Linked DNA regions of Homo sapiens: region 1 is linked to region 2. A link means that fine-mapping ties the variant in region 2 to the expression of a gene that starts in the linked region. Tissue or cell type: whole blood. Region 2 holds a variant in brackets; the other region holds the start of a gene. All regions are shown on one strand. Distances are from middle to middle.

What was found. PIP is the estimated chance that this variant, and not a neighbour inherited with it, causes the effect.
Region 1: FPGT starts here. The variant in region 2 is fine-mapped to the expression of FPGT in whole blood (INTERVAL, PIP 0.96).

What each region holds. Positions count from the first base shown.
Region 1 is chr1:74,195,252-74,201,586 of GRCh38, forward strand. FPGT (fucose-1-phosphate guanylyltransferase) reads left to right here and starts at 2,991. Exons shown (of 4, transcript NM_003838.5): 1 at 2,991-3,109; 2 at 4,413-4,580; 3 at 6,067-6,159. The coding sequence starts at 3,028. LRRIQ3 (leucine rich repeats and IQ motif containing 3) reads right to left here and starts at 2,925. Exons shown (of 8, transcript NM_001105659.2): 1 at 2,745-2,925. It overlaps FPGT-TNNI3K (FPGT-TNNI3K readthrough), which reads left to right and starts at 2,991. Exons shown (of 27, transcript NM_001112808.3): 1 at 2,991-3,109; 2 at 4,413-4,580; 3 at 6,067-6,159. The coding sequence starts at 3,028. RefSeq lists a silencer at 2,829-2,928.
Region 2 is chr1:74,031,949-74,038,283 of GRCh38, forward strand. The region is part of intron 7 of LRRIQ3 (leucine rich repeats and IQ motif containing 3); the gene reads right to left. Among named protein-coding and RNA genes, the nearest start is that of LRRIQ3, 160 kb to the right of the region's middle. The variant T/G (reference allele first, on the strand shown) is at 3,842.

The DNA of each region.
Region 1 (6,335 bases), 160 kb after region 2:
TTAAACAGAGCCATGAAGCACAAGGACTGGAAACAAGTACAGCCCTAGCTTGGCCTGACCACAGCATGCACTACGAGCTCCACAGTATATAATCCAGGACCCTATTCATTTGGCTTCAACTTCCTCATATAAAGAAGGGGGGAAAATTAAAACATTCTTCTCTATAATTTCCACACAACAGTCATAGTTATATGCCTGTAGTAATAAAAAAACAGTGTAACTGGCATTAACTGTAAATGGGTTGGAAGACATTTTAATGGGGGGATGAAAATGTTCTAAACCTGTACCTCAATAAAGTTGCTTTAAAAAATCTATCTCATTCTTCCTTATGGCAGCTCTTCAGATACTCTCTACTCTCCTCCTGGAAATAAAAAGCCCAAATGCCTCCACAGAATATAATTTTTCAATTTATTATAGTCTAGTATGTTCAACATCTTTTTAAAAATGTGGAATCCAAAACTAAACAGATTATTTCCTGTGTGTTTGATTTGTGCAGAATTAATGGGCTTACAGCTTGGCTGGATTGATATATTTTACTCTGGTAAAATGACATTCTGATAAATACCTGGAAAAACTCTGTGGCGAATTCTCTAGTATAATAATACTCTGGTAGCTTAAGATGTTAAACAGTCATATCACACTGTTTTATTATAGTGAATATGAACTTAAATAAAATCCCTAAACTTTTTTTGCCTCCAACAATCAACTGCCACGGAAATTTACTCCTACTCATATATATAGTATTTTTTAATTTTTTTTTTACTAAAAATTAATATTAATGAAAATTTGAGAAAAGAAAGAAAACAGAAGCCATAGCTGATAATATGGTATATTTATTTCCAGCAAATTTTGATTGCATGATATAGTCATATTGAGAAAAAATAATATCCAATTTCTATGGCCATCCTTCCCAGATCCAAGAAATACTCTAATATTCTGTATGATACCGTCCTAGATCCAATAAATACTCTATTTAATATTCTGTATGATAGAATCTAACACATCACTCTGTTTGTCTCCTCACAATTGTTACCACTGGATTTTTTATTTGGTTACTTCTTCCTTCTTTATTTCACCTTATTAGAATATACAGACCCCAAACATATAGGCTCTGCTGACCTTCACTCCCTTGGGACCTCACTTAGTTCCACAGTTAAAATTAATTCTATCTTCTTGCTGACAATTCCCAAAATTGTATCTCTAGCCCAGACCTCTCTCCTGAATTCTAGACTCGTATGTATAATGCATACAGACACATACACACACAAACTTCCATTACATATTCACTGCATACACATGTCTCTTTATTCCACATGTCCAAAATCAAATTCTGGACCCTATTACCCCAAAAACCTTCCTCAGTCGGAAACTTACCCATCTTAATTGATGGCCAATCCATCCCAAGGCAGTCATTTTGACTCCTCTTTTTCTCTTACAGTCCACACCCATTAATTCCATCAGCACATTTTATTGTTTTTGTCTTAAAAATATATCCAGAATCTGACCAACTTCTCACCATTCCCACTGCTACCATCCTGGTCAAGCCTTCACCAGCTCTCACCTGCAATATTGCAGTAACCTCCAAAGAAGTCTCCCTGCTTCTATCATTGCCTCATCCCCCATTATAATCTATTCTCCTATCTCCGAGTGATCTCTTTAAACATAAGCCAAGTCACTTCAAAACCCTGCAATGGCTTTGTTTCCCTCAAGAGTAAAAACCAAAATTCTTCCTATGGCCCTTTGTTCTCTCTCTGACCTTCTCTCGCTACTTTCTCCTTTGGTTACTTTCACTCAAGTCTCTGTATTTTCTAAATGTTCTTCAATAAGATACTGTTTTTTTAATTAATGAAGTTTTAAATGTAAAACTATGAAAGAGTAATCTAATCTGCCATTTTATCCAAATGTTTCCACTATTAGAACACGATTGTATAACAAGTCTGAGAAGAAAAACTAAGTAAATTTATGACAAGAGTTTATGGTGCCCTGAATGTCTACGTACCTAATGAAGACGTTGATACAGAGAAATCGTCTCAAAAAATCAAACGGTATGGTGAAATACCACAAGTTCTGGGTTTGGGATTGAAATATATTTCTTAAATCTTTTATTACTTACTAATTGTGATACCTTGACTAACTCACTATTCTCTGATTCAGTTTTCTTCTGTGTAAAGATGAAGTGGTCTGTAAAACCAAGAAACCTCGTGTTCTATAACAGGAACACCTTTATATAGCTACCCAAAAAAACACCTAAAAAGGCTGACTTATTCCTAAGAGTGTTATTGAACATTCTAGATTAATCTGCATATACAAAAGAATGCCAGAGAAGAAACCAAAATACCAAAAATATTTGGAGCCTGGTTGCGGACTGAATTTTATACAACTTTCAAAGACACTATTTGAGAGGCTGTCGTGTGTAGCCTACTAAGAAAAAACAGAGGGGTGGGGTGGCTCACTCTCTAGGAACCACAAACTTAAGGTTCCTAGAAAGAGCAGAGATTTTAAATATTCAGACTGTGTATGTATCATGACCCAGGGTTGGGGGCAGATGGCCCGGGGTGGCGGGGGAAAGGAGAGATGGCGGAGATCTTCTATCAGGCTATCCTGGGGAACTGCTCCAGGCTGAAACAAACCACCAGTTAGGACGAACCGCCTTTGATGTGAAAGCTGGGAAGCTAGAATGTAGTTTCGCCTTATCCTTAGCGGGTCGGTTCTAACAATTTTGTCACCCAAACTGAACCACTCACCGGGTCAACTGGGCTGCAAGCCCTTATGAGTTGGAGACAAGTGGCCCAGCCCCAACACAGTCAGACAAATCGCTGGGCGGCCATCTGCTCCTGAGACCGTTGCTAGAGAAACAAGACAACATCCAAGTTCTCCACATCATGGTTTTCCGGGCGCCAGCCAAGGCGCTCCGGGGGCGTGGTTACGTGGGCGACGCACGGAGGGGGCGGGTCAGAAACAACCGGGCGGAGGCGCACCCCAGGGCGCATGCGTGCTGTGCGGCGCGGTCTCAGGGAAGGTGGGGCTATGGCAGCTGCTAGGGACCCTCCGGAAGTATCGCTGCGAGAAGCCACCCAGCGAAAATTGCGGAGGTTTTCCGAGCTAAGAGGTACCAGAGAAGGCACCGGAGTTCTCCTGGGCAATGCAGAGGGAGGGTGCTTTTACGTGCCAGGAGGTTTGCTGGACTGTCACTTCCCGTTTACTTCTCATCTGTAGGCCTATGACGCTCCCCAGGAGTAGCTAGCTAATAATCCTTTTGAGTTTTTTATTCTTTTCACTGTCCCTGCTTGACATGCTTGTTGCTTACTTTATTCTTAGTAGTATAGATATTAAAAATGAGGGCGGAGGAAGAAGAAGAAAATCTTACTAGTGAAGTTATGCATTGATTAGCTCATTAATAAAAGTTGCTTTAAATAAATCTAAAAGATACGAAGCACAGTATTTTGAACTTTATGAGTAGATGCCAGCCCCCTATCTACTTCACGCTTTACATTACGTTCATCTACTTCTGTAATGTAACCGTTTGTTGAGGGAGTAACAGAACATGGAGGAATTATGGATTAAAAATTAAAAGGAAGAAATTTGTTATCAAAAAATTGGCTATGACACTTAATCCCTGTACACCTGTCTAATAAAAGTGATTATATTTGTGTTGCAGTGACTGCTTAAAAAATACTGGGACTAATTCTTGGATAACAGTAAAACTTTCAGGACTATTAGATTCTAGCTGACAAGTTCTGTTTGTTAACTAATTAAAATGCTAAATCATTTTGTTTATCAATAAAGAGATTCCAACTGTCTACTAAAAGTGCACACTGTCTTTTAAAGATGTCATCAGAGAGTTGGGACCTTCTGTTATCCAGAATTTTATGTTATATTCTAACAGCCTATGTAAGTTTGCATGGTTCATCTTAAAGTAATAGAAAATAAAGTACCCACATTTATAAACAGCAACATTGAGGGAAGGGATCTTTGGGTTGTGTCTTTCTTAGTCACCTAACACCAAGTGTCCGTGATACATAAGAATTGATTTGCAAAGCTGGAGATTTGTTTATGTTTATCTCCTCTTCTTATTGAAGAATTGAGGCAATAGTCTTTGGCAAGTTAAAAGTCGCTCTCTTAATCAAGAAACATTATGTCATTCAGAATTTATAATTAAATTGGATTGCAAACCATAAAAGGAGGGAGTGATCTAAAAGAAAAAAAAGGAACTTGTGAACAGTCTTCATTATAACTATTTTGAATCGTATTAATGCACCACTAATTATTCCCTAACTTTCAAAAGCCAAAGATACATTTTGGAAGATGATAATGGATATTACCTTCTTTATCATCTTTCTCAATAGGCAAACCTGTGGCAACTAGAAAATTCTGATAATTTTTGTTTTCATTTCCTTGCTTTTTCCAAATAGGCAAACTTGTAGCACGTGGAGAATTCTGGGACATAGTTGCAATAACAGCGGCTGATGAAAAACAGGAACTTGCTTACAACCAACAGCTGTCAGAAAAGCTGAAAAGAAAGGAGTTACCCCTTGGAGTTCAATATCACGTTTTTGTGGATCCTGCTGGAGCCAAAATTGGTACGCGCTTTATGGTCAGTTTTATAATATAGGTCCTAAGCAGAATAATCATTGAAGAAAAGGTTTCTGTGACTTACAGTGTATAAGCTGCATATCTCTACCCACAGCTTTACAAACTTTAAAATTTGAACATAAATTGACTTTTTTTAGAAAGATAAAAGGAATAGCAACTGTTCTTACCCATTATGACTTACCTTGAAAAACTTCCAGAATGTTACTTAAAAGAAAATTTTATTAGTTTTAATGAAATTCACACTATTCAGATAGGAATACTCCTTTGGACCTTATCAGTAGAACCCTTGAGGTCCTCTCCACTCCAGAGTTCCTCCAGCAATTTACATGAAGAAAGCAATTAGTGGGAAAAAATACTCTTGACCTCTTAGGGACATAATGCAGAATGCAAAAGAACACTGTCACATGGCTTAAATATAATACATATATTTGAAAACCCTAGTTTAGGTCAACTTTGCCCTTTGACCGTCCATTGCAAATAGAAATAAATGCTGTTTTTCTGAATGCTCTTTTCTATGTGATACTTAAAGTTGAAGCCCCCTGATACCAGAGATAAGATATCTGTATATGACATTAATATGACATTAGCATTATTCTAATTAGCCAACATTATTTTAATCCTTACAACTATGAGGTCAGTACTGTTATTATTTCTTTTTTTTTTTTTTTTTTTTTTTTTGAGAAGGAGTCTTGCTCTGTTGCCCAGGCTGGAGTGCAGTGGTGCGATCTTAGCTCACTCCAAGCTCCGCCTCCCAGGTTCAGGCCATTCTCCTGCCTCAGCCTCCCGAGTAGCTGGGACTACAGGTGACTGCCACCAGCCTGGCTAATTTTGTTTTTGTATTTTTTAGTAGAGACGGGGTTTCACCATGTTAGCCAGGACGGTCTGTATCTCCTGACCTCGTGATCCACCTGCCTCGGCCTCCCAAAGTGCTGGGATTACAGGCGTGATATTATTTCCATAGATGAGAATCTGAGGTACTCAAGAGTTAAGTAACTGGCCCAAGATAACTAGTGTGGTAGTTATATTTAAGATTTTTTTTTGGGAATCCAAGTTCTAAAAATCTTTTTTCGAAAGGAACTCTAACTTGTGTTTTTGATTGTGTCATTTGGGAGAATTATTTAAATGGGCTTTGTGATTTGTAACTCTGTATGAATGTTTATATTTATCAGTCTTCTAGTGTTACAGATTGTGTAATTGATTCTTCTTTCTTATAATTACTATTTTGGGGAGAATATTACCTCATCATTTATTACTGAGGGTTGTTGTCTGGGTTTCATTGCTAATTTATTGATTGGTTGTTTGCTATGAGATGTTTTTAATTTTGTTCTATTGCCAATACCTTTGATGTCCATCTATTTACTTATTCCTGAAAGGCAAATCCTTAAGGTTATATAACACCTAAATTTACTGTCATGACAAAGTTTTAGTAGGTTTCTATTAAATAAATTGTGCTTTTTTAACTTTGTTTTTAAGGAAATGGAGGATCAACACTTTGTGCCCTTCAATGTTTGGAAAAGCTATATGGAGATAAATGGAATTCTTTTACCATCTTATTAATTCACTCTGGTAATGTTATACTTTACTAATTTACATTTTCTTTTTAGTCTTCCACCTTTAATACTTTAGAGACTTTTTTCTTTCTTGCAAACACTTTCCTTCTTTTTTAAAAGAATCTTTGAAGTTATTCTGCTTTGAAAACAAATATTTTATGATTTTCATGACTTTTTTTAGGTTGTAAGTAG
Region 2 (6,335 bases):
AAAATGATAAAATATTGCTAAAAGAAATTTAAAAAGATCTAAATTAATGGGGAGTTATATCATCTCAGAGATTATAAGATAATATTATGATGTCAATTTTTCCCAAGTGGATCTATGGATAAATAAAATTACAATTAATATGCCAAGAGCCTCTATGATAGAAATTAGAAATTAACATTTACATTTGTTTTAAATATATATTAATTTAATTCAGATTTATTTTAAATGTGTTAAATTTAAATGTTTTGAATTTATTAAAATTTAAATTTATATGAAAATGCAAAGGTCCTAGAACAACCAATACAATCTTGGGAAAACAGAACAAAGTTGGAATCTATTTTTCATTCCACATAACAATTTACCCATAAATGTATTGGCTTACAACAACCACCTTATAATACCTCATAGTTTCATTAGGTCAGAAGTCCAGGCACATTGTGGCTAGTTGGGTTTTCTGCTTAGGTCTCACAAGGCTGAAATCAAGGTGTCAGCCAGAGCAATGGTTCTCATTTAGGTCTTGGGTCCTCATCCAGATCAGTGGTTGTTGTCAGAATTAATTTTATCATCACTCTTTCCCTGTGCTTCCCTCTATTTTTAAGTCAGCAATATCATGTAAAACCCTTCTTATACTTTGAATCTGATGTTCTCTTTTGTCTCTGTATTTGAAAGGCTCATGTGATACATTGGGCGCATCTGGATAATCCAGAATAATTTCCTTATGTTAAGGTTAATTAAGCAATATTCTTAATTACATATTTAAAGTCCCTTTACCAACACATTCACAGGTGTGCTATCTCATCATATTCATAGTCCTGGGAATCAAGGAGGGCATGGTATCTATCTTCTTGGTAGCCATAATTCTGACTAACACAGCAGCCTTACATTACTTGATTTTAAAGATTATAAGAATTATAAGAGGAGAGTTTATTAGCTTTTTACAGAAAAATGGAAACCTAATCATGAGACAGCAGAAAAGGAAACTGTGGTAAATATAAAATATATAGAATTTTATAAATATGGATATAGGAAGTTGAATGAATTAAAGCTTGAAGTCCTAAAATTTCGTTGGGAAATAGATAAATTATCTTGTTGAGAAGGAGAGGCCATAAGTGGTGTTTGAATAGAAAGCTGTACTGTTGAAGATTTTAAATGGCTCTTGTAGGTAACAGGAGAAAGAGCAAGCAACTGTGGGAGCAGCTCAAGTTGGAGACCATAAAATTAATATTGGCATAAATCTGTGGGGCATTGATTTCTTCTAGACATTTTTATCCAAATACAGGAAATAAAGATAGATAGTTGAAATGTTCCAAGGGTTGTAAGGAACATTTTAGCATAATCAAGGCAATGAAATGAAAGAACTTTAGAGACACTGGAGAGAATGGACAAAATAATAATTGAATTAAAGAACCTCGGAGCCTACACTAGAAATGAAAATAAAAGTGTATAAAGGAGGTTATTTGATGGATGGGTGTCACCATATATTTGGAGGATATGTGTGGTGGAAGTAAAGGAAGAAAGGAGTTGAGGAAGAAAGGAGTTGAAAAGATAGATTTTAGTTATAAATAAATATATAGGAGTTGAAGATTTAAGAGGTGGGGCAGTTCCAAGTGATAAGAGGATCTTTGTATGTGTCTATGGAAATCAGTTTATTAACGTCCGGTAGGATAAAGATTGTTGGTGTCCAAAAATGTTGATATTAGGTAATTGGGAGGGCTGTTCTTATGAATTTGGAAGTTAACAATGATTATGGCAGAAATTGGATGGAGAGAAAAAGCTTCATAAGTCAAAATGATGTAAAGACCACAGTAAATGAAGATGGTAGTATGGGAGGTCAATTGATGACCAAATAAGGACAAGTTGAAGATGATGTAATTGAAAAACCACTTTATTTTCTAGCTCTTCCATGCTAAGTGATACCCTACTTCAAAATGGACACCCTGCTCTCCTGGCTTGAACAGTATCATCACTTTCTCAGAGTACAGACATGAATATCTTAGAAAAACCCCTGACTAGCTTTTATCTGATACATAGATTCTTTCATTTCAAAGTCTATCTTTAATTAATGCTTAAATACTCCTGTGGGTATTTTATTAACTTTCTAAATTAGAGCTTTATGGTTCCCCTTTTTTCTTTTACTCTTTCTCATTCCACATAGCAGGATTAGGGAGCTACATTCTCAATAATGACTTCACTAGTTATGGAAATTTATCAGAATGCTTTTAGGTCAAGAGAATAAAGAATCATCAGCGGAAAAAGTATCAGAATTGAAAAATTTCAGAAGTCTCCAGTTAGATTTCACTTTTTGATCACATCTTCTTTCTGTATATTGATACCTAATCTTTATTTGAAAATATTTAGAGTAAAACTCAAAGATGCCTACTGGAACATACTACTCGCATAACCAAAACATTGCCCTATTCTTATGTGCTCTGCAGGTTAATACTTTTGCAGTAGCTTATGAGAGAAGATAATTCAGTTAACATATATTAGGATGCTTGTTTGAGTCTGTATTCTTTAAAAATTAATTATGGCCAGATATTCATTTTACTGTGAAAAAACTAAGCTGATTAAATTAGATTGATTTGCACTAGATTTGTATTTCAATACATACTAGCTTTCATTTTCTTTTCCAAAATACTTTTTTAAATTAAAATAAGTTATAGGAAATATTTCCAAAGCACACACAGACACACACACACACACACACACACACACACCACAAAGTGTACACTAAAGAAAATGATTTTAAATATGGAGGGGGAAATAAATAGTATTTTTCATACGTAATAAAGTATTACATAAAACACATCAGTAAATAGCTTAAATTGCTTATAAGTAGGAAAAGGCAAATGCTTTTTTTTATTTAAAACTTCTTTCTAGCACAGGCTTTTAAAAACAATGTTGTTTAAAAATTTAAATAAAATAAGCAGTTCTGAAGATCTCTAAATGTTTCTATACAAGCCTTAAATATGTATGTACATAATTTGGCCATTTGAAATAGCACTAGGATAAAACTGTGGCTGACCAGTTTCAATCTAATATCAGAGAAAAAATGTGTGAAAGACTTTGAAAGGGTAAAATAAAATTACTAGGAGTCCTGGCTAGTACACCCTTCAGAACTATCTGTGCCTTTCAATCTCCGTGAACAATTTTACAACTCTAAATTAAGAAAAACTGTGAGCAATACAAATGATTCTTCTTTATAGAGATATAAATAATTGTGTTCAGCTAAGTTACGTTTGATTATTGCCCAGTGAATATTGACTAGTTTTGCACCTATCTGTGAATTTAGTTCAGCATTTTTGATTGCCAATATCAATATAGACATAGAAGTAGACATAGACATAGACATAGATATAATATATAGATAGATAAATGTTCTTTGAATTCTCATAACTGATTTATTCTTTAATGAGTTAAATGATATCTTTGGCATGTGCTCATTTTATATTTATATGGGTCATGGTTTTATGTTCTTAAAAATGTTCCTTGGCAATTAATAAAATTTAAATTGACTAGCTGTAAGTTAAAATATTTTGAGTCAACAAAGCTCCTACTTTACCAAATTTGGTTTAAAACTTTAAAACCTTCACCATAAAACAATTTCTATTTTTGCAATTCTTTGAGAAAGTTTTGTCCAAAGTGTGCCCTAAGAATTATTTTCTGAGATATTTCTTGAAAGGAAAGTTTTATGGTAAAATACATGTGTAAAATGCAATATATCTTTCTGGTAGGAATCCTAATGGTCTTTACTGCACAACTGTCTACTGAGACTTAGAGGCTCTTTTTAATCAAGTTGATGTTTCTCAAGCAATTGCACTGTCAACTACTCTTCATAAAC[T/G]TTCTGCTATAGGTACAGGAATATTCACGATCTCCTTGATCTCCCCTAGCTTTACCTATTTTGAACTTTCCAACTTTGCTTATCCTCTTCTCCTTGCCTCACCTCTCTACTATAATGGTCTCCTCTCACCTCTCTGCTTTTCCAATGTGAATCAACAATTGTACTTCTCCTACTACTATTTTTTGTAACAATTGAAATGTATGCTTATGTTTGCCACTGGACTGTGAGTTCTTAGAGGATCAAGAATATCTTATTCATCTTTGTATGGCAGGGCAAGGGAGAATTTAAGTGAAGTAACACTCTGGTTTAGTTAAGGCTTCTCTTTGAAGGTTTTGATTTTGGAGTAGCAAAAAATGCTGCCCCCAAATATGGCACATTGGCACACTATGTATTTTAAGCTGAAGGAAACTGAGAAACTTGCAGAAGCAGAAAGATTGCTCTCAACTTCCGCCTCCTGTCTTTTAAACACTGTGACAAGTGCCATGCTTTAAACCATGAGGGAAGGAATATTATATAGAAAGGCCAAGAAGAATCTGAACAAACAGGCCTTGCTTGGTACCCCTCATCCCCAGTTTATTACCATTAGGTCATACCCTTTTCTTTTTGTTCCAATCATACTTCTACAAAATTGTCTATTCTTCATCAAATCTAAGCATAAAAATAGTTGTCCCTGGGTCTTCATTTTAGAAAGCTTCTAGGTCACATAACATTTTGATGAAATAAATTTGTTATGCCTTTTTCTTGCTAATCTGTCTTTATTATAGAAGTGTCAGCCATAAACCCATTAATGTACCCGAAATTTTAATTGTCTATTCGTAATGTTTGTGTTATTGCTGGTATTATTATGTAACTCTGTTAATCTCATTGCTTTTTGCCATATTTCCCACCTCAATTTTCAGTTTCTTGGGCCAAATGATCTTTACATGACTACATCACCTGTAAGAGAACTCTTCAAGAGCTAGAAATGAATTACTACTTGAATTATTTGAATTGAAGGTAGGTACTACTTAGTAGAAGCACCAATGATCACAGAGGGGCAGAAAAAAATGTGCAGGGCAAATTTACTGCCATGAATTAAGCACTTGTACTAAGAAGTTTACTTAGTCTAATGATTAGTGAAGCTACTTTCGTAACTTGGTTAATTACATTTTTACTCTATGTTTAATATTATTCTGATTATCTTCATTGTAAAAGCATTTAGAAAAAATATACATTGCTTCTTATTCTAAATGACTTAAGTACAAATATGTAAAAAGCACTCTCTTCTCAGTGGTTGTTATATGACTTAAATGAGTTTATATACAACCTTTACTAATTGAGGTTCTCGCCTATTTTCCTCAAGAAATGTGTGTTGAATAAATTTGTTAACTAGGTACTATACTGGGCATTGAAATAGAAAGATGGAGTGAATAATACAAAGACTTGATTATTTTCTTGAGGGGGTGGGGCCAAAATGGCTGACTAGAAGCAGCAGTGATTGGAGGCTGTCATCAAAAAGAACCATAACTGCCTCCAAATCCTGCACTGGCAACTGAGGTATGCAGGGTCTTCATCAAAACTGACTAGGGCCAGGTGAGGTGACTCACACCTGTAATCCCAGCAATTTGGGAGGCTGAGGGGGACGGATCACCTGAGGTCAGGAGCTGGAGACCAGTCTGGCCAACGTGGTGAAACCTTGTCTCTACTAAAAATACAAAAAACGGCTTGGTGTGGTGGCGGACGCTTGTAATCCCATACTCAGGAGGCTGAGGCAGGAGAATCATTTGGGAGGTGAAGGGTGCAGTGAGCCAAGATCATGCCATTGCACTCCAGCTTGGGCAACAAGAGTGAAACTGTGTCTCAAAACAAAACAAAACAAAAAACAAACAAACAACAACAACAACAAAAAACAAGAACTGACTAGGCAGCTGGTATGACCCATGGAGAGGAAGGAAGAGCAGTGTGCTGTGGTGGCCCACCTAAGAGCCACACGGGGCAGGGGAGCCCCCACACCCCAGTCAAGGGAGGTGGTGAGTGTGCTACCCAGCCTAGGAAACCGTGCTTTTTCCATGGAACTGTGCAACCCAAGGATTGGAGGATCCCACTCATGAACCCATGCCACCGGGAAGCCATGCAGATTCTCAACAGCCACTCAACTAGAATCTGCTTAAGACTCCCAGGGGAGGGGCAACCAGCACCACAGCTGCCGCTGCCTAATGTCTAAGCTGCCTGAGGTCCTTAGGGGAGAGGCACCAGCCAACACTGAGACTGATAGCTGCCTAACACATTAAGCTCCCAGGGCGGGTATGGGGCAGCAGCCATCTCTATAGCTCCAGGATATGCTTTTCCCCTGATGGAGCCAGGGAGTCTGGATAGCTTCGTCCCAAGAGGTATCCCCCACAGCCCAACACACCGGCTGTGGCAGACTGCAGCCAGAATGCCTCTTCAGGCCTGAACCTGACCCATCCCTCCTCACTGGGTGGGGTCTCCCTGCAGGAACTCCAACAACTCCAGC